3 linked regions of the Homo sapiens genome follow. The protein of the gene in region 1 purifies or fractionates together with the protein of each later gene. This does not show direct contact. Each region holds a gene or a part of one and is shown on either strand. Other genes may lie near its edges.

Region 1 (5,281 bases):
TAGTTGGGACCACAAGCATACACCACCATGCTTGGGTAAATTTTTTTTTTTTTAGAGATGGGGTCTCACTATATTGCCCAGGCTGGTCTCAAACTCCTGGTCTAAGTGATCCTCCTGCCTCAGCCTCCCAAAGTGGTGGGATTACAGACATGAGCCACTGTGATTGACCTCTTTTTTTTTTTTTTGAGACAGTCTAACTCTGTTGCCCAGGCTGGAGTGCAGTGACACAAACTTGGCTCACTGCAACCTCTGCCTCCTGGGTTGGAGCAATTCTCCTGCCTCAGCCTCCCAAGTAGTTGGGATTACAGGTGCCTGCCACCATGCCCGGCTAATTTTTGTATTTTTAGTAGAGACAGGGTTTCACTATGTTGGCCAGGCTGGTATCAAACTCCTGACCTTGTGATCCGCCTGCCTCGGCCTCCCAAAGTGCTGGGATTACAAGCGTGAGCCACTGCGCCCGGCCAGACCTCTTTTCTTTTTCTTTTTTTGCTAATAAAACAGTTAAGACAATTGTCCATTTTATTTGTTAAATTGCTAAAAAGTCATCAGGGGAAAACATTAACAAAAAATGAAATTGACAGATTTAAATATCAATGAAATCCATGTTTCATTCCTACACTGTTATGTGCCCAAAATGACTATCTCAGGGTAAGCCACCTGGCATCCCTGAGTTGTATGGGAAACATCACTCACAGCACCAGCTTCGCCAGGGCACATGGGGTGTGCACTGACATGAACCCTGGTTGGAGGGAGGGGAGCAGAGCAAGTAGAGTGTACAATGGAGCCAACACCTAAAGTTTGCTCTCATTTGACAATGAACACGGTGAGAGGGAGCCACTTACTGGTAACCATGCAGAACATGCCTTCTGCAGTTCATGGAGAGGCTACATGGGACGCAGGCCTGGAAATTCAGCTTCCTCACCACCAGGCGTGGTTAGATCCTCCCCACTGACTTGTGCGCTGGTAAGAGACCATGGATAATGCAAAGTGGAGCATATCACCATGCCAGGATCACCACAAGGACAAGGACAGACAGACAGACCAACCAGGAATACCACTTTTAAGGGGGAAGGAAAGAGTGAAGCAGAAGGAAACCCAGAATGACAAGGTGAAAGAAAGGAAAGGGAAACATCTCTTTGTTCTCCATTGGCTGGTGGCTTTCTGTCCTCCAAAGTCAAGGCTTCTTAAGTTGGTTTTCTTTCTTCCTCCTCCTCCTCCTCTTTTCTTTATTTTAAAGAGTTCCAACACAGTTCCTAGAATAGTTCATGGTTTTCAGCTGTTGCTGTAAAACTCGAACATTAAAATCAAATCAATCCACAGACAGCTGGGAGGAGAGTAAGCCCAGTATGCCCTAAAATGAAATTTAAGCTTGTTTCAACACCAAATTTGTGCTCCCAAAGTGTAGGGTAGGGTGAGGTTGTGGAGTCCACCAACCAAATGAAGGGTGGAAATAGGAATGAAAACACAAAACCCGCTCTGCTGTATAACCTGTGAAATAAGAGAACAGGAAGCTCTGTCCAAGAGGGTAGGGAGAGACTAAAATTCTTAAGTAAGATGGACAAGGTGACCAGTGAAGTCACTAGGCCATGGGAGCTCTCAAAAGGCACACTTGCAGGAATGGAAGGGGTTAAAGCTTCAAGTAGAAACAAAATGAATTTTCAATAAATACGGATAAATATTTGCTTCAGGTGCTCCTGAGGGTTAAAAAAAATTTAGTCTCATTTTTCTCAGTGAATTTTAAGACAAAATTGGTATCATGTGAAAAATGGGGTCATGGTTCAATCTGGCCTGACTGCAGCATCCACGGCATTGTGGAAATGCTCGCCTTGGCCGAGACACGTGAAGTCCCACCGCACAGGTGGCTTCAGGAGGCCTGAGGAGACAATCACCTTCACTGTGTTGAATCACTTTCCCATGGTACACGCCCACAGTGCCCAGGAGCTACCAAGACCAACCATAATGGGGGCAGACAAGGCAGATTTTTCTTAAAAAGCTGTAAGCAAACAGTCTGGTTCCAGGCAGTATGCGTCAAACTGGAATTCAATGGAGTTCAGAGGAACCAGATTACTTTCTAAGACAATCAACATATCTGTTGCCTGCCTACTTGGGGGAAGTGGAAGGAATCAACACGTTAACAGCTGGCTTAGGAAGGCCACAGGACTAAGGGAAAGACTGTAAGGTTGAGATTCTGTACTTTCAGGTTTCTAATATACTTTATATTTAGATAGGAACTACTGAGTTTGGAGGCACAGTCCATGCACAAACACAATGTCCTAACACAAGGTACAGCAATAGCGGTAACACCTGAATTGCTAGCCTTCTGGCCCAGCTTTCCCTTGTAAATAAGGACCCCACATGATCGAACAGTCTTTGCCAAGCAAGGATTGGCAACAGCACCAGAGCCTGAGTCGCGAAAGGGAAGTGTGGAGCTCCAAGCAGTTGGATGCCACATAAGTAGACACATGTTGTTTCCTCATTGAAGGGAACACAAAGAGCAGTTTCTGGAACACATACCCCTCCCCACAAGCTAGGCTTGGCACCAGGGTGGCTTTCCTACGAAGACCACATCATAAAAGCTAATGGCTAAGGGAAAGGATTCAGCATGATGTAACAGGAGAAAACACACTTATCAGTACACTTAGGCTGCCAGATGCTGGCTGAAAGCCAGGACCCAGGGCCAGCTGCAGCAGGCTTTGTGCCTGAGAAACGCTAATAATAAAAAGAGGAGTGTCAGGGTGGCAAGGTGATGTTTTGAAATTAGGATTTAAATTTCAAAACAAAACAAAGGCAAAACAAAAATCCTCTTTCCACTGATGAGAAATCACCAAAAATCCCTATTTAAATGGTGCCATTTGAAATAAACTTATTTTGACATCTCCTATGCCCAGGCCATGGTTGAGACTAGTAACTTTCTGTATCAAGCAAAGAAATGCTCTACTTGGTTACACCTTAATCTCAGAAATGAAGTGAAAGTAAAAACCCAAGCCCTATTTGGGTGACACATGAAGAAGACAAGTGCAAAGGATGGAGCTGTTTCTGAGGTCAGCCATGCGTCAAGAAGTCAAGTACATGATTCTCAACTCCATCACCTGCCAATAGCCAGGAAGAGGAATATATGTCACCACAAGGAAAAAAACATTTCTAAAAAGAACTGTTATTGGAATTCCCTTCCAGAATCAATTTCCACATTCTACAAATATGGGATGAGTGTGCTCAATGTGCTTTGGAAGTAAAAAGAAGCCCATAGGGAAAAAACAGTATCTTTTGATGCTTGCTTCAAAGATTTCTCACAATATTGGCATCTTAGAATTCCCTACTGGCCCCCTAGTGACACCAGGGAAAGGGTTCCACAAGTATTTCTAAGCAGCTTCTGATTTCTGTAGGCACCTGAGCTTTGTAAAAGAAACAGAAAGTCAGACAGGTTTTAGGACTTCACCACATATGAAAAAAAAAAAAGAAAAGAAAAAAGGTAGAAGAAAAAAGCAGCCTGTAAGTGAATGGAAAAGGCAGTTTCCAAGTACCATGTTCTAAGGGAAGAAAGAGGAGAATAAATATGTTTTTTGGCAACTTGCCACCAAATATGATTGATTGTCAGAAATTTCCACAATCAGACACAAAATGTTTTCTGAGACACACAAGAAGCACTCCAAAGACCAATGGACACTACTAGGCGGTCAGATGTTGGCTGCATAAACATTATTTCACAATGACCCGGCACACAAATGTGGAATAAAATCCTTTGTTGGGTAACTTTCCTCAGCCATAAAAGGCAAGAGGGGGCCAGGCACTGGCATTTCTGCAGAGCTGTCACAGGTCCTCTGTGGTTTTAAGAGAAGGGGAAAAACAGTTACTTTTACCCCGACAGCACCTGAAGCATGAGAGTCTAAAACCCTCCACCTTTGCAACTTACATATGCCCTTTCATTTTTTAACTCCAAGAAGGCCACATAAAGATTTACAGGGGGCTCTTCAGTTTCTTTTGGGAAGTTACTGATGTTAGTCTATTCTCTAACTTCTTGGTCTAGTTACCAGCAAGGTAGAAAAAGGCAGCCCAGCCCCTGTTAAAACACAGCAACAACTTTATCTGAACCAGGATGGAAATCTCTCCCTTTTTTTGTCAACAGAGTTGGCTATATAATATATATATATATATTTATATATAATTTTTTTTCTTAATGGAGATTTGATCCCAGCCTGGAGTGACTTCGGTTGGGAATTAAAGAGTTTTGGCTTCTGGGAGTAATTTTGTTTTCCCAATTCTCAGTCCAAATGCTTACACACTGGAAAATTCCAAATTAAAAGCCACAGAAAAGGAAAGGGGTTTAGAACACATTATCTCTTTGCTCGTACAAAGTACAAGGCGTTTGTTTTTGGATAGTACTTCACATTCTGTTTCTTGTCCATGAGTCCTCCAAATATGATGAGTTCACCCCTGCCTTGTACCACGGTATGCAGGCTGGTTTCAGGAGGTCCAACCACAGAACTGCTATTAAATACTTTCCATTTGACCCGCCCCTTCTCCTTGGTGTCTTTAATGTCCAGCACGTACATCTGCATGGGCTTGCAGTTCATACTCTGGTATAGGGGTTTGCCAACATTTAGGGACTGTGGAGGGTGGTGGCCCAGGCGGCGAGCAATGGGAGGTAAGGAATGTCCATCTCCTTGGGCAGGCCCTGGGCGAGGGATGGGCACTGTTTCTCCACTGCTCAAACTCTGGCTCCCAGGAGAGCCTGGAGAAGACCCAAGAGGAGGACTTAGTGCTGCAGAGGCCGAGGGGCCTTTGGAGGACATCGCTTTGATGGCTTCCAGACTCCGACGCAGGGCACCTGGGGAGACGGCCCCTGCAAGGGCACTGGCCACGTGAGGTGGGGTATGCACACCATTTGTCTGTTCAGGAGGGTGTCTCATACTTCCCCCAACTGTCCTATTGTCCATGCCATCCATGGGATTACTACTGGAAGCGGGTTTCAGATCCCAATTCAGATCTATGGATCCTAATCTCAGATCTTTCTGATCTGGTAGTGATCCTCGTCGGGGGGCCAAAGAAAGTCCTATTTTCAGGTCGTATCCTTCAGGAGCAGATGGAGTACTTGGAGATATGGCCTGTACAGGACTGTCCAAAGAAGAGCCACCCACAGCTGCCGTTCCTGGAGACAAACTCCCACCATTGAGGATAGGAGAGCCGTCTCCTCTGGCTGGGGAAAGGCTCCCTTCCCGGGAACCTGAAGGAGTCTGCCTTTGAGCCCTGGGTCTCAGTGTTCCCCAGCGGCCGTTAACACAAG
Region 2 (7,000 bases), on another chromosome or scaffold:
GTTTTAATTGGCGGAACTGTTATGTTCACTTTGGCTCTAAGTATATAGGATTTGGAATTAGGTGGGCAGGAAGTGGTGGGGAAACTGATAAAGAACTTCAGGGGAAATTAACCAAGGGACTCAATATGATTTCCTCTAACTTCTCTGCTCTTTAATGTCAGCCAGAGCTCCTCAACAATGCTGAAAAGTTGAGATTTTTAAAACTGAAAAAACAAGAGGCCCTGCTCTTTTCAGGGTTAAAGATAATATAGAGTCCTGTAGCACTGCCAGCCTATGTAATGAAATACAGTAAGTCCTCACTTAACATTGTCAGTATAGTTCTTGGAAACTGACTTTAAGTGAAACAACATATATGAAAATCAATTTTACCAGAAGCTGATTGATATAAACAAGAGTTAAGTTCCTATGACATATTTCTGGTCACAAAAACATTATCACACTTCTAAATAAAGACCCAACATACTTCTGATATTAAATATTGAAACAAATATGAGTTATGCATATATTAAAGATTAATGAAAACCGTATAATTACCCCATTTTTAGTGAATCAGTGAGTGATGGTCATAGTAGTGATGTGTTAAATCAAGGGATAAATGTTTGCAAAGTAAAAATTGTAAGGAGCACCTCCTCCCAACTCACAGTTCAAAAGCAAATAGTAACAATTACAGCGGCTTGCTGAATACTTGCATACTGCATCATTGATTTTCATGTGTTTGTATGATTAGCATATACTTTATGAATTTGTATTTTACAATAATTTGTACTCATTCATTTTCTAACGTGCTTATTCCAGTTCAGATCAAGGGTGGCTGGAGCCTGTCCTGGCAGCTCAGGGCACAAAGCAGGACCCAATCCTGGATGGGGCACCAACTCATTGTAGGACACACTCATACACACACTCTTACTCACTCCAGAGGGACTATGTAGACATGCCGATTGCACATCTTTGGGACATGGAAGTAAACTCGAGTATCTGGAGAAAACCCACACAGACATAAGGAGAACATGTGAACCCTACATAGACAGAGGCCCCACTGAGAATCTGCTTCCCCCCCCCCCGTCAACATTATAATAAAAGGACGTTGAACATTCAAGGACCTACTGTACTTGAGAATCCACACGGCTGAGCTGGGGCTTCCTGTGTTGCCTGCATCATGGAAATAAATTAGTAGAGCAAATTGGGACAGCAAACCCAAGTTTCACACTCAGGGTGCCCACGTTTGCTGAGGTGGGCAGTAGATTGATAGCTGGTAACTCTACCAACAGATGCCAGGAAGGAGCCGAGATTCACGTAGAGCTCCAACCCATGTTTCCTGATCTCGTCTGTTTCCAAAATCGCTCATAGACTCCCTAAACTGTCCTTATTTCCCTGGCATCAGCTACCCCCAACTCTGCTACTCCCAAGTATTGTTGGCAAAGGAGATAGGCCCACAAACCACAGCTTGATTTGCCCTAAATCCATGTTTCCCTCAAGTTCCTCTGTACTTGCTGGTTGGACAGGACCCAGCAATTTTGGCTGCCATGGTGACCGATATCCGTTCCTATCTTGGTGGCATGACTGCCTGAGTCATGTCATCTTGCAGGCTAGTGGTTTCCTCAGCTTTAAAATGATGATTTGCCATGCTGCTTCTGGCTCTAAATGCGTGTGACGGAACTAGCCCCGACTGAAGACAGCTACTGTCTTGACATTGGGCAGGGAATGACAGAATGGATAGGCCAGAAAGGGACCACAGGCATCATCCAGGCCAAACTTCTCATTTCATAGATGAGGGCATCGGAGCTACAGCAGCTGAGTGACCTGCTCAGAGTCACATGCCTCATTAGTTACATATGGGTAAAGACAGCTTTGTCTTGATTTTGCTTCTCAGAGTTATTGATTAGTATTATGAGTATTTACTCTAAAAGTAATTGAGTATGCATTTCTCCACTAGACATCATACCGCAAAATGATGCCTGCTTGAATTTTTTTCTTGCTTATCAACTACCTCTACCTCCTATGATGCTTTTAAACACTGGAATTGGGATCCTTAAAGGTAAATGCCTCATAGTTATTTGTTTAAATAAACATAATTCTGAGGCTGGGGGCAGTGGCTCACACCTGTAATCTCAACACTTTGGGAGGCCTAGACAGAGGATTGCTTGAGGCCAGGAATTCAAGACCAGCCTGGGCAACGTAGCAAGAACTCATCTCTACAAAAAATAAAAAATTAACCAGGTGTGGTGGTGTGTGCCTGTAGTCCCAGCCACTTGGGAGGCTGAAGCAGGAGGAATGCCTGAGCCCAGTGGGTTAAGGCTACAGTGATCCATGATCGTGCCACTGCACTCCAGCCTGGGCAACAGAGCGAGACCTTGTCTCAAGAAAAGAAAAGAAATGACTGTGGATTGTACTTCAAAGCTTGGCCAAAGTGTATGATGAATGCAGAGAATCACAAGGTTTAATAGGAGTCATATAAGGGTCCCACAATTTCTCATTGTTGCTGCAGGTAGGAATTGTTTAACATTCTGAGGAGCATTTGCACGTTAGTGGGGTCCCAACTTTGCGGCACAATATATTTGACTTATTTTGACACCCTGCACCTCCTCCTTTTTGCCCTTGAACTGTTCTTCAGAATCAAATTCTGCCATGCAAAAACAACATATTTTGAAGCTCTGTTTCCAGTTTGCTACATAATCATGGCTTATTCACTTGTCAAATAAGCCCTCTAATATATATTGATGGCCTATAAGGTGCCAGATGTTATTCTAGATACTGAGGATGTACTAAGGAATGAAACAGACAAGACAAGTCCCTTGTAGGACTTACATTGTGGAGGGCTGGAACAGAAATAGAACGGATATCCAGATATAGTGATTATCATAGCCAAAAAGTGTTGAGTGCTTTCTAAGTGCCCATTAGTTATCAATGGTTTACCTAGATTTACAAATGTAATGCTCACTGTAATCCAATGAGCCAGACATTATTTTTGTCCCTTACTTTGCAAATGGTAAAATTATATCTAGTAATTTTCTCAACATTTTCTAACTAGTGATTGATGGAGCTGGGATTTGAACCTAGGCATTTGGCTCAAAGTCTATGATCATAAGACAGAAGTGTAATTACAGGAGTCTCCCCCCAATGCATTGGCTGCTGTTTTGTGACTGTACCTGTTTGTAGGAAATATTTTAAATATTCAAATGGCCAGTTGTTTCTACAGCTATTTTTATGGCTTTGAGAGGAGAAAAGAAAAGCCTAGAGCTGTGTCGTCACAGGAGAGTTTTTCCCATCTGTTTGAGACCTCCTTTTTTTCTCTAAACTTAGAACATAATGATATCATTATCCTTATATCATTTCCTCTCAGGTCTTGATTGTTCAGGTTCTGAGGCAGCTGATTTTATGCATATTCATTCTGGCTCAGATGTGGAACAAGTAGCTGCTCACCTTCATTGGCTGTCCTGTGCTCCTGTGTGAATATGGGCAAGTCTTTTGCTCTCTGTGAGCTCCTTAAGGACCTTGGGTGGTGTTGGTAGTACTAACCATCTCGGGAGGTTGAGATTGTTGCTTCTTAAGACTAAGCTACGAAGAGTTTCAGAAAGGGGAATGTCATTTGGCTGTAAAAGTAAAACCGCACTTTGGATATTATTTTCTGATGTTTGATTGCTTTAAAAGACTACATTTTATTCATGTTTTTGGTTCTGCCTTATGTATACACACGGGATCTTTGGATGAGGAGCTTGCCTCTGTGACCCACTAAGGAAATGTGGAATCTATTAACATCTTTGTGCAATCAAGAATAATTTGTTGACTCAACCATTGAAAGGTGAATTGCCACTGGTTGAAGAAATAACATGGAAGCAGTAGCATAGGCTCTTTGCATTAAGAAAAAATTTTTAATTATTTAATATGTCAAGTACGGAGAATGATAGAATACATGTCCTCTACTCATTGCTATGAAACCTCTTGCACTTTCAGTCTCTCTTACCAGCCCTCTTTTTCTACATATCTGTTTCATACTGTTTCACAAGTATATAATTGTTTCATTTACTGTCTTGACCCCCACTAAAAGGAAGATCCATGAGGGCAGAAATTCCTGACTCCTTGATTCACTGCTATGCCCCCATTATCCAGTCATTGTTCTCAGTATTTATTACATATTGCTCAATATTGATTAATTGAATTTTCCCATGTTTGCTTCATTGAAATAGAACACTGTTGGGGTTCCCTCCGCAACTGCAAAGCCTCCCCCAAATCAAATTTTCTTCCTTCCCTAAATCCTTAGAGTAACCTAGAGTAACCAGTATTGTGGATTTGGTGTTTATCATATTTTGTGCGTGTTTTTATATCTTAGTACATGTTTATTTATCTCCATTAGCCAGTATGTAGAGTGTTTGGGAGCTTTTAAGAGTTATTTATATGAATAGTAATATAACCTTTCTGACTTACTGTAAGGGACAAGCCCGGAAGAATAACTGTAAGCCCAGAACTGTAAGGGACAAGCCCAGAAAAGTCCTGATATGACTAGTACACCGAACTCCCCTAAAGACCTCTCTAAGGAGGACTTTCCACTTGCCTTGAATAAATGCTGAAACAAGCAATGCATTTCATGTACCAGACAACAATTAAGCATTAACATCCAAGAATGAACCTATCTAGTTTTTTTCAAAGTTTAAGAACTAGATGCACTTAATATGTTTGTGCCAGAAAATTGGCCACATGTTTGCAGTATTCTCCAAGAAAAGGGGTCCTAATTGTTCAATCAAAAAATGTATTAACAAAGTATAAGTGGCCTGACACTTTGGTAACACTTTTTTCCTTCCTTTAGTTGAGACGGGAGAAGATTGACCTTGAAAATACATTGGAACAAGAACAAGAAGCACTAGTTAATCGCCTCTGGAAAAGGATGGATAAGCTTGAAGCTGAAAAGCGGTTTGTTTAGTCTTGCTGTTCAGTATGGGTGTGTGTGTGTGTGTGTGTGTGTTGCTGCTCTGGGTGTGACTGAGGAATAGCAGTAGGACACCTTAATTCTTTGGTGATGCACATCATTTTAATTGGCCAAAGGAAAAAAAATGTTGAAAGCCTTCTGAACTATTCCCATGTTGGGCACCTCTTTATTCTTTGCTATCATACTGTCCCAGTAGAATTTCTTTTCATTTGGTGTTACAAGGCTATGAGAGAATTAGTCATGCTGCTATTGTTCACCTTTAAAGTATTTTCAAGAATGGTTGCAATTTCAACTTTCCACCTTATTGAACTGGCTTCCTCAGTTGTTTTGTAAAGTACATAGGGTATACTGCGTACTATTATTTATACATCTCTGGAATTTACTTCTTTAGGAAGCCTGAGATTTTAATAATAAAATTGTTTTAAAACCTACTGTAAAGAAATACCTTTACATACTTAAGGCTAGGATTCTTTATATAAAATGTATGTACTTGGAAGTGGAATGTCACTCAACAGCAAACATTTCTTAAACCTCTTTGTGCAAGATAGTTAAGCCCTTATTTTCAAGCACTGAGTACTTTGGAGTGTGTGAGGCAGGGCTTGTAAGAATGGGAAGAAGATTCTGTATGTGGAATGTGTGTACGGGTGTAAAAAGTGAGTTTCTTAAAAATGGTCATTAATCTACTTCACCAAGATCTTTTGTTTGCTACCCAGAGCCCTTCCTCCTTAAGTATTTGGTTTGGATGCATATTTGTAATTGTTTTGAGTTCATGTCTACATTTGCAAAATACAGGCATACCACATAGCTTTAAGAAAAGTGAAAATTAGAGCTATATCTATAAGAAATACTTGTTATAATCATATCCACTATGCTTTACTGATAGGTATTATTGTAGCAGTACTAATAAGTTGAATTACGAAAAGTCATTTTATGTAATAAATGCAGGGACCATTATAATATTTAACACACTAGTTTTCTCAAGGGTAGACCTGGATGGAGGTAACTCAGTTTGCTCCTGGACAAACTCAAAGGTACAAAGCAAAAACAAAACAAAAACCCCAGCAGCTATGGAAAGGGATTTAGAGATCTGCTGCCAAAGGAAGACTTTGTAAAAGGCAGTTGGAGGTTTTACATGTATTAGTGCCAAATTATTGGGTTGAACAGTATGGAAGTTTGCATTTTGTAGGTCAGAGCTATTGAATATCAGTATTTTATATCCTTCAACATAAAAATAATTGGTAAAGAAGGTGGCACTACTAATTATTAACCTAACAATTTTGGTTTTGTTTTTAACTTTTTACCTTTGCTGTGGCCAAAAGCAAAGGGCCGCTAGTCCAGTTTGCCATGCCCTTGCAATTAGTTTTGCAGGAGGGAATTTTAGAAGTTGAGTCTCTGTGTTACTTTACCCTCCAAGGAGATTCATAGTAGCTTAGAAGCTTCAATCAAAAGCCGTAAGAAAATGGAATTTCCTCAGCATCTTCATGCACTAAACCCAAGAAGTTGAACATTGAGTCAGCAGGTATTTCTAAGTGCATACTGTATTCCAGGCATAATTATCAGATCCTGTTGTTAAATAAAGACTTTTCAGTATTGTTTAATTTAAAACATTTAATAGTCATTTAAAAGGAAAAAGGGAGATTAGAATCAGCTCTGCCCTTTGAAGTGAGACACCACGTAAGGGCAGAAGTTTGATGTAAAATGGGCAGAGGAATTAAGCAACCCTGTGAATTCTGGCAGTAAACAGGAGTTTGCTTTTAAAACAAACCTGCCAGCTAGTATGTTGTTTTGTCTTTTCAAGGAAAACTGTTAGTCATTGTTGGAATTTTTCTTTTCAATGAAGAATCCTGCAGGAAAAATTAGACCAGCCCGTCTCTGCTCCACCATCGCCTAGAGATATCTCCATGGAGATTGATTCTCCAGAAAATATGATGCGTCACATCAGGTTTTTAAAGAATGAAGTGGAACGGCTGAAGAAGCAACTGAGAGCTGCTCAGTTACAGCGTACGTAGCCTCTGGTTTCACTAGTTTCATGCCTGTAGAATTAATAACTTTACCAAATATAGGGTATTACCAACATTT
Region 3 (7,000 bases), on another chromosome or scaffold:
TGAGGTTTCAAGGGTATCATAATTTGGCAAAAAGTTAACATTCTCCATCTTCTGCAATAAACACTGATTCATACATACAATCTATTCCCAAAGCTTTTAGAGATACGTACACAGAAGGCATAAATGGGAAAGAATTTATGGGTGAAAATTAATGCCTTGTAAGAAATTCATTAATTTTTTAAATATAAAGTTCAAGGTAATCACCTGTGACTGTTCTATTTCTGCTTTGTTTAATTTGATCCCAAGGATTTCAGCAGCAACTTTCTGAAAGCACAGGAAGACCTACATAACAAAAATGGGTTTAAATGATTTAAAAGAGGCATGCTTAAGTTATCTTCAAATAAACAGAATTTTCTTAAAAATGATAAACAGCAATAATTGCAAAAATATGATATAGCAGGTGATTCCAAAAATAGCTTTATTTGTCAAATGTAGCAACATTTTAAATATAATAATTTTTAAATTATAAAGCCATAATTTAAAACTCCATGCAATTCAATGAATTGATCATTTTCTCTAAACACACACATGAAAGATTTAACATGATGATTACAGCTACCACTTTAAAAAACAACAAAACAATCCTACTTACTACTATAAAAACTCCCATAATTCCTGAAGAAAATAAAAATAATCTATACTTTACCAACCTAGTTTTTCACTGTCGGTTTTATCTTGGTCCTTTTAGCCACCTTTGGCCTATCTCAAAAGGTCTTAGTTTCTAACACTTTAATACTCTCTGTGCCTTTCATATCATTCCAGCAAATTCTCCATGTTTCTTGAGTAAAGCAACTTGGTACTGTTTACTATATTTTATCAGTTCAGAGCAAAGGAAAAATATATGCCATTACGATTAAACAAAAATAGACAAATATTTTTCTATAAATAGCCTTTCCACACATAGTTAGCTTATGTCAGGTCTGCTGTAATTACTAGAGTTCCAATCCTGACATTTACTGTAGTATAACTTATCTTTTCTTCATAAATGTCCTACCATATTCTTATCCCTATTCATCACATGCTTATAGAATATTTATCAAAACTTTATTAATTTTTACTTCTAACAAAAAAGGATACATATTCCTGATAGCCTTATGCCACTTGTACCCTAAGAAGCATATTTTAGTTCACTGATGGTCAATGGTCAAGGAACAACAGGAAAAGTACTGTGGTGGAGTGGAGAGAAAGAGTGGTTATAAAAGAAGACGAGCAAAGAGATGAAGGGAGTACAAACCATGTAAAATCTGGTAGGCTACTGGAAGGACTTTGGCGTTTACTCCAAATGAAATGGAAGGCATGGGAGGGTGGCCCAATGTGACTTTTATTTTAACAGCATTAGTCTGGTTGTTTGTATTGAACATTCACTATAGGAGACCAAGTGTACAAAAACAGAATCAGCAAAGAAACTAATGTAAAATATTATGGAGGCTGAACCAAAGTGGTAGAAGTGGACAAAGTAAGAAACAGTCATCAGGTTCTGGATATATTTTCAAAGTACAGCCAAGGGGATTTGGTGACAGATGTGGGGTGTGAGAGAAAAAGAGGAGTCAAGAAAGGCTCCAAAGTTTTTTTGGCCTGAGCAACTGGTAGATCTGCTATTTATTAAAGTGAGGAAGACTGTGAGAGATTTGAGGAGGGAATAGCAAGAGCTCAGTTCTAAACATGTTAAATTGGGCAGCCTATTAGACATCTAAGAGGAGATGCTGAGCGGGCAGTTGGATATAAGAGTCTACAGTTCAGGGGAAAAGTCTGAGCAAAGCCAGAAGACTAAATAAAGCCATTAGGAATAAGTGTAGAAAAAGAGATTATCAAAGGACTGAACCTTAGTTGGCTGGAGACATAAGAAAATTAGTCAAGGGGACTGACAGAGTAGTTAGTGAAGCAGGAAGAAAACCAGGAGGCGTTGTATCCTGGAAGCTAAGTGCAGAGAGTATTTCAAAGAGACGAGAGTGATCAGCAATTATTTATGTTGCTACTTAATAAAATAAGATGAGGGCTGAGTACTGACCATTGGATTCAGCAAAAAGGAGGCCATTGATGACGTGAATAATAGCAGTTTGGGTAAAATACTGAGGGCAAAAGTCTGCTGGAACTGGAAGAGAAACTGGCAAAAGAAGAACTAGAGACAATTCTTTAAAACATCCACTGGAAAGTGAAGGAAGGAAATAAGGCAACAGCTAGAGAAAAAATGTGGCATCAAGAGTTTTCTTGTTTTTAAGATAAAAGAAGTCATAATATTTTCTGTGTTGAAAGAATAATCCAGTAGGTGGAAAAAAAATAATACATATGAAAGAGAGAGAACTGCTAAAGCAATATCCTTGATTCAGCAAAGATAAATGGGACTAGTACACAATGGAGAAGTTGGCCCTAGCTAGAATAGATCCCATAGTAACCACAGAGAAGACAGAAGATATGAGAACAGATGGGGTAAGTAGGATGAGGTTAGACCTGGTAGCAGCAGTATGTAGAAGTTGTCTTCTGTTTGTTTCAAATTTCTTATAAAATAGGAAACAAGGTCATCAGCTGATAGAATAGAGGAGGATAGTTTGAACATTTGAAGAGAGAAGAGAAGCTATGAAATAGTCATCGGCCTGGTGCATTGGCTCACACCTGTAACCCCAACACTTTGGGAGACTGAGGCGGGTGAATCACGAGGTCAGTTCAAGATCAGCCTGGCCAAGATGGTGAAACCCCATCTCTACTAAAAATACAAAAAATTAGCCAGGCGTGGTGGTGGGTGCCTGTAATCCCAGCTATTCGGGAGGCTGAGGCGGAGAATTGCTTTAACCCAGGAGGCGGAGGCTGCAGTGAGCTGAGATCGCACCACTGCACTCCAGCCCGGAGGACACAGTGAAACTCTGTCTCAAAAAAAAAAAAAAAAAAAAAAAGTCACCTAGGTGAGGGGAAGAGGTGATAGACTAGGGATATAGAGCATAATTACTGAGCAGCATTAAGGGCCCACTTGAGATTAGTGATTGTGAACTTAAAGTGAAAACTCCAGCATGCCTCTGTGTTTTTCTCTGGTCATGTTCATGGGTACACCCATGAAAAAGTGGAGACTTGGTTTAAACCAGAATTAAGGTTTAGCCAAGCGGATCTGACAAAATGAAAGAGGGAAAAGGGAACTGAGAGTATATGCATGGCAATGATTTGGACTGGCCATGAGATTTAAGCTCAGAAGAGAGAAAAATGAAGACATGAAAAGAGGTTAAGATTTTGCAAAGGTGTTAGGATCAATGTCTTGTAGGTCTTGCTAGGGTTGAGAATGGTTGTGTTAGGACACTCAAAGGTGTGAAATAGAAGATGGTTGGTGGTTAGTGATTAGGATGCCTGATACTGAGATAATAGAAGAGCCACAGTAATTTGTAATGATGTGATCTGTAGTATGCAAGAGTGACTAAGGTGGCATCAGGGAGAAACAAGGATACTGAAATCACTAAGAATTATGACATAGGAATATCAGAGAAAGTATAGTAACCCAGGAGCTCATCTCCTCAAGCAATGAGAAAGTTACCTGGAGCTAGAAATGATTACAAGTCTTAAAGTAATTTCATAAGAACAAACCATTTCAAAGTACCACTTAAAAAAAATGAAGTTTTTTAATAGTGGTTCAATATAAGCAAACAAAAAACACTAAGTGGCAAAAAAATACTAAGTGGTTAAAAACAAGCTAAAATACTACAAGTTAAAATAATTCTGAAATGGCAAAAAAAGCCCCTGGGAAGATTAAGTGAGGGTAGAAGCCCAGTGAATCCATGGATGAGTTTATCTACAATTATTGACATTACATTTTTTAAAAAGGCATGGATGGGTGAGTATGTGCCCATGTTCACATTGTCTGAGGGGAAAGGATTCCAGGAGGCCAAATTTTTTAATGGGTCTTACCAAAAGAAAGAATAAACCCCCATCATATTATTTATTTTAGGTGTAAAACTATAAAGGATATTACAGAGAAAAACATCAAAAATCTTAAACCACAGAAAAATTTCAAACTTCTTTTAGTTGAAAAATGTCAACTGGAAAAATAGTCAAATAGGGGTCAGTGATGATTATTTGAAAAAATTATGATACATGACTATTAGCACTAATATAAAAATGGTCATAGAAAATTTCTAAATACAATAGAAAGTTATAACAAGTAAAAAGCAGAAAGTGAATAACTAATAAAACTTTTAAAATTTCAACCTCAATTATAATCAAAGAAATTCAAATTTAAATAGTGAAGTATCTTTTTTCTTTTTTGGGGCCTACCAATTTGACAAAGATTTTAAAATAAATACATAGATAAATCCTGAATGTTAAAAGGATGTAGTTATGGCAATCATACAATGCTGGTGATAGCATGAATTTAGTCTTTCTGGTGGTGATTTGGCAATGTTTCAATCTCCTTTCAAGGAATCTACCTAAAGAAAATAATCAAAACACCAAAAGCTTACGGACAAAATTTTACATTAGAACATTATGTTCAAAACTTAACAACCTATATGTTCCACAATAAGAATAAGATTGAATAAATTTCTGAACATTTATTAAATGAATTATTCAATCTATTATTAAATGACATGGGAACAATAAAAATATTAAGTAAAAAGTAAAATATAAAATTATTTCTATATTATAATCTTAATTTTTAAAAATAAATATAGGGTTGTGACTGTGAGCCCCAGAGTGTCACTATTTGCCTTCACAAATCCTCTCTCCTCCACTTATTAGCCGTGTAATCTGGACCCCATTACATAATTTCTCTAAGACTCATCTATAAAATGGAGATAATCAGAGTAGTACAATATCTATAATAAAGTAAGCACTCAATGAATGCCATCTCCTAGCCACAGGCAGCAGCACTAGTGTGAGCATCAGGAAAAGAGACTAGATGGAATCATATGAGGTTATGAGTGGTTATCTCTAGATACTGACATTACGGGTGGTTTATATTCATTTTAATTCCCCTTTTAAAAATAACTAAAATTATGTTAAATAAATTATAAAAGTAATATAACCAGAATAAACATGTTATATCTAATCTAAGGAATTTCATGTTTTCAATAGGAATTAATTTGCTCCAAAAGTTAAATAGTGGAAGTATACTTCCTAGGAATGTTAGTAAATAAAAGGAAAACATCACATACAGTATTCATTATTTTACTTACAGAGTCTCCTGTCTTGGCTGAGACAAAGTGGCTACTAAAACCATTTTCCTGGCAAAACCGTAAGTGTTTTTCAGGTTTTATTGTTCGCATATGCTCCAAATCAACTAGAAAGGTGTTAAAGAAAGAAAATAATTCAATATTAGAGTCTATCAAAACGTTTTTAACATGTTTAAATTTGACTTGCTTTCCAATATTATATTCCAGCTTCGACATCAGCTGTGCAACCTTGGACAATTTATTAAACCTCTTTATGACTCAGTTTCCACATCTATAAACTGGGAATAATAAATATACCTATTTTGTAGAGAGTTATTTGATAATTAATCTATGTATAATGCACAAAGACCAGCACAGAAGTGCTAAAAAAAAAATGTGCGCTATCATTATTATTATCATCTGTATAAGTTCAGGCACACTGATGATGCTCAACAAAGATCTACTTAATATAGTACATTTAAACATGGTGATTAATTGAAGGCAAGTTGTACTTACCCAAGCATATTTGGCTTGAAAGAGTTTAATTACTTTAATAATTAGCTCTGTAATCTCTATAAGCTTGAATGTTAGCACAAATACATAACTTTCTGCTTAAGAGATCAATATTACATTGTGTGTTTACATTAATTTATAGCCATACTTTAATTTCACAAAGACATAGTTCAGTTGTTTTCCATCTAGAGTATCCATTTTGAGAGTAAGGGGCAAGGATGTATTTCCTTAAATAGTTGTAGGTGCTTTAAAGCAAGGCACAGTACTCATATCCAATACTGGTTTTATCCAGCACAGTGTATTTTTCCAAATGTGATCCTTTATTTAACAGTTTCTCTTTTTACAACACTACAGACCCTATAAGGGTGTTGATTCAATGCCGTCAAATTATAAGGCAAATATATTCACAGGATTTAAGGACAACTAGGCTCTTTGAGTCAATATAGGAAAAAAAAAACTTAAACTGATTTCCTGAGGAAGGGACCCAAATGACTTGTAAAAACTTGTAAATTTGCAAATCTAGTAAGCCTACATAATAGTGCCAATTGATTATCAACTAAAAAATGCACTCATACTACATAAAAGACTTTATTTAAAATTATATTGAAAGTCTTTAGTTTGTAGGCTCAAGGGTTCTCTCTCTAGGAGATTTTTTTTAATCTAATGGGGTATTCCTGAGCCCCATTTATATTGCTTACCTTGGAAAATATGGAATTTTTTTTTTTTTTTTTTTTTTTGAGACAGAGTCTTGCACTGTCACCCGGGCTGGAGTGCAATGGCATGATCTCGGCTCACTGCAACCTCTGCCTCCTGGGTTCAAGCAATTCTCCTGCCTCAGCCTCCCAAGTAGCTGGGATTACAGGCGCCTGCCACCACGCCCGGCTAATTTTTTGTATTTTTAGTAGAGATGGGGTTTCACTACGTTGGCCAGGTTGGTCTTGAATTCCTGACCTCAAATGATCCACCCACCTCGGCCTCCCAAAGTGCTAGAATTACGGGCGTGAGCCACAGCACCTGGTCTTTTTGTTTTGCTTTGTTTTGTTTTTTTTGCTCTTCTGGCCAGAGTGCTATTCCTTAAACATCACTATCTCCTTATTTACAAGAACAGGCAAGGAATGTCCAGATACCACAGGCATCAATTTGTGGAAGACTAAAATACTAAGCTATTAGCACTGACATTTATATATCCAATTTATCATAATATTGGAGCTAACTTTTCTAATTCAACAAGAGTAAGAACAAATCTTGTCACGAGGAAAAATCCCCATTGAAATCGCCACCCATTGAAATCACCATCCATTAAAAAATAAATAAATAAAAATAAAAGTTGTGTCACTTAATGTGTGTGTACATTTGTTTTT

Evidence for each region. The genes of interacting proteins can lie anywhere in the genome.
Region 2: the proteins of FBXO42 (region 1) and CCDC6 purify together in Homo sapiens (affinity purification with mass spectrometry; 2 studies listed by BioGRID and IntAct, with this or other methods). This does not show direct contact.
Region 3: the proteins of FBXO42 (region 1) and RAB28 purify together in Homo sapiens (affinity purification with mass spectrometry; 2 studies listed by BioGRID and IntAct, with this or other methods). This does not show direct contact.

Annotation. Positions count from the first base shown.
Region 1 is NC_000001.11:16,246,339-16,251,619, forward strand, and holds the end of FBXO42 (F-box only protein 42), read right to left. Parts: coding exon 4,332-5,281; 3' UTR 502-4,331; downstream 1-501. UniProt on the Homo sapiens protein: Substrate-recognition component of some SCF (SKP1-CUL1-F-box protein)-type E3 ubiquitin ligase complex. Specifically recognizes p53/TP53, promoting its ubiquitination and degradation.
Region 2 is NC_000010.11:59,812,557-59,819,556, reverse strand, and holds part of CCDC6 (coiled-coil domain-containing protein 6), read left to right. Parts: intron 1-4,801; coding exon 4,802-4,905; intron 4,906-6,761; coding exon 6,762-6,922; intron 6,923-7,000.
Region 3 is NC_000004.12:13,376,341-13,383,340, forward strand, and holds part of RAB28 (ras-related protein Rab-28), read right to left. Parts: intron 5,255-7,000; coding exon 5,151-5,254; intron 283-5,150; coding exon 205-282; intron 1-204.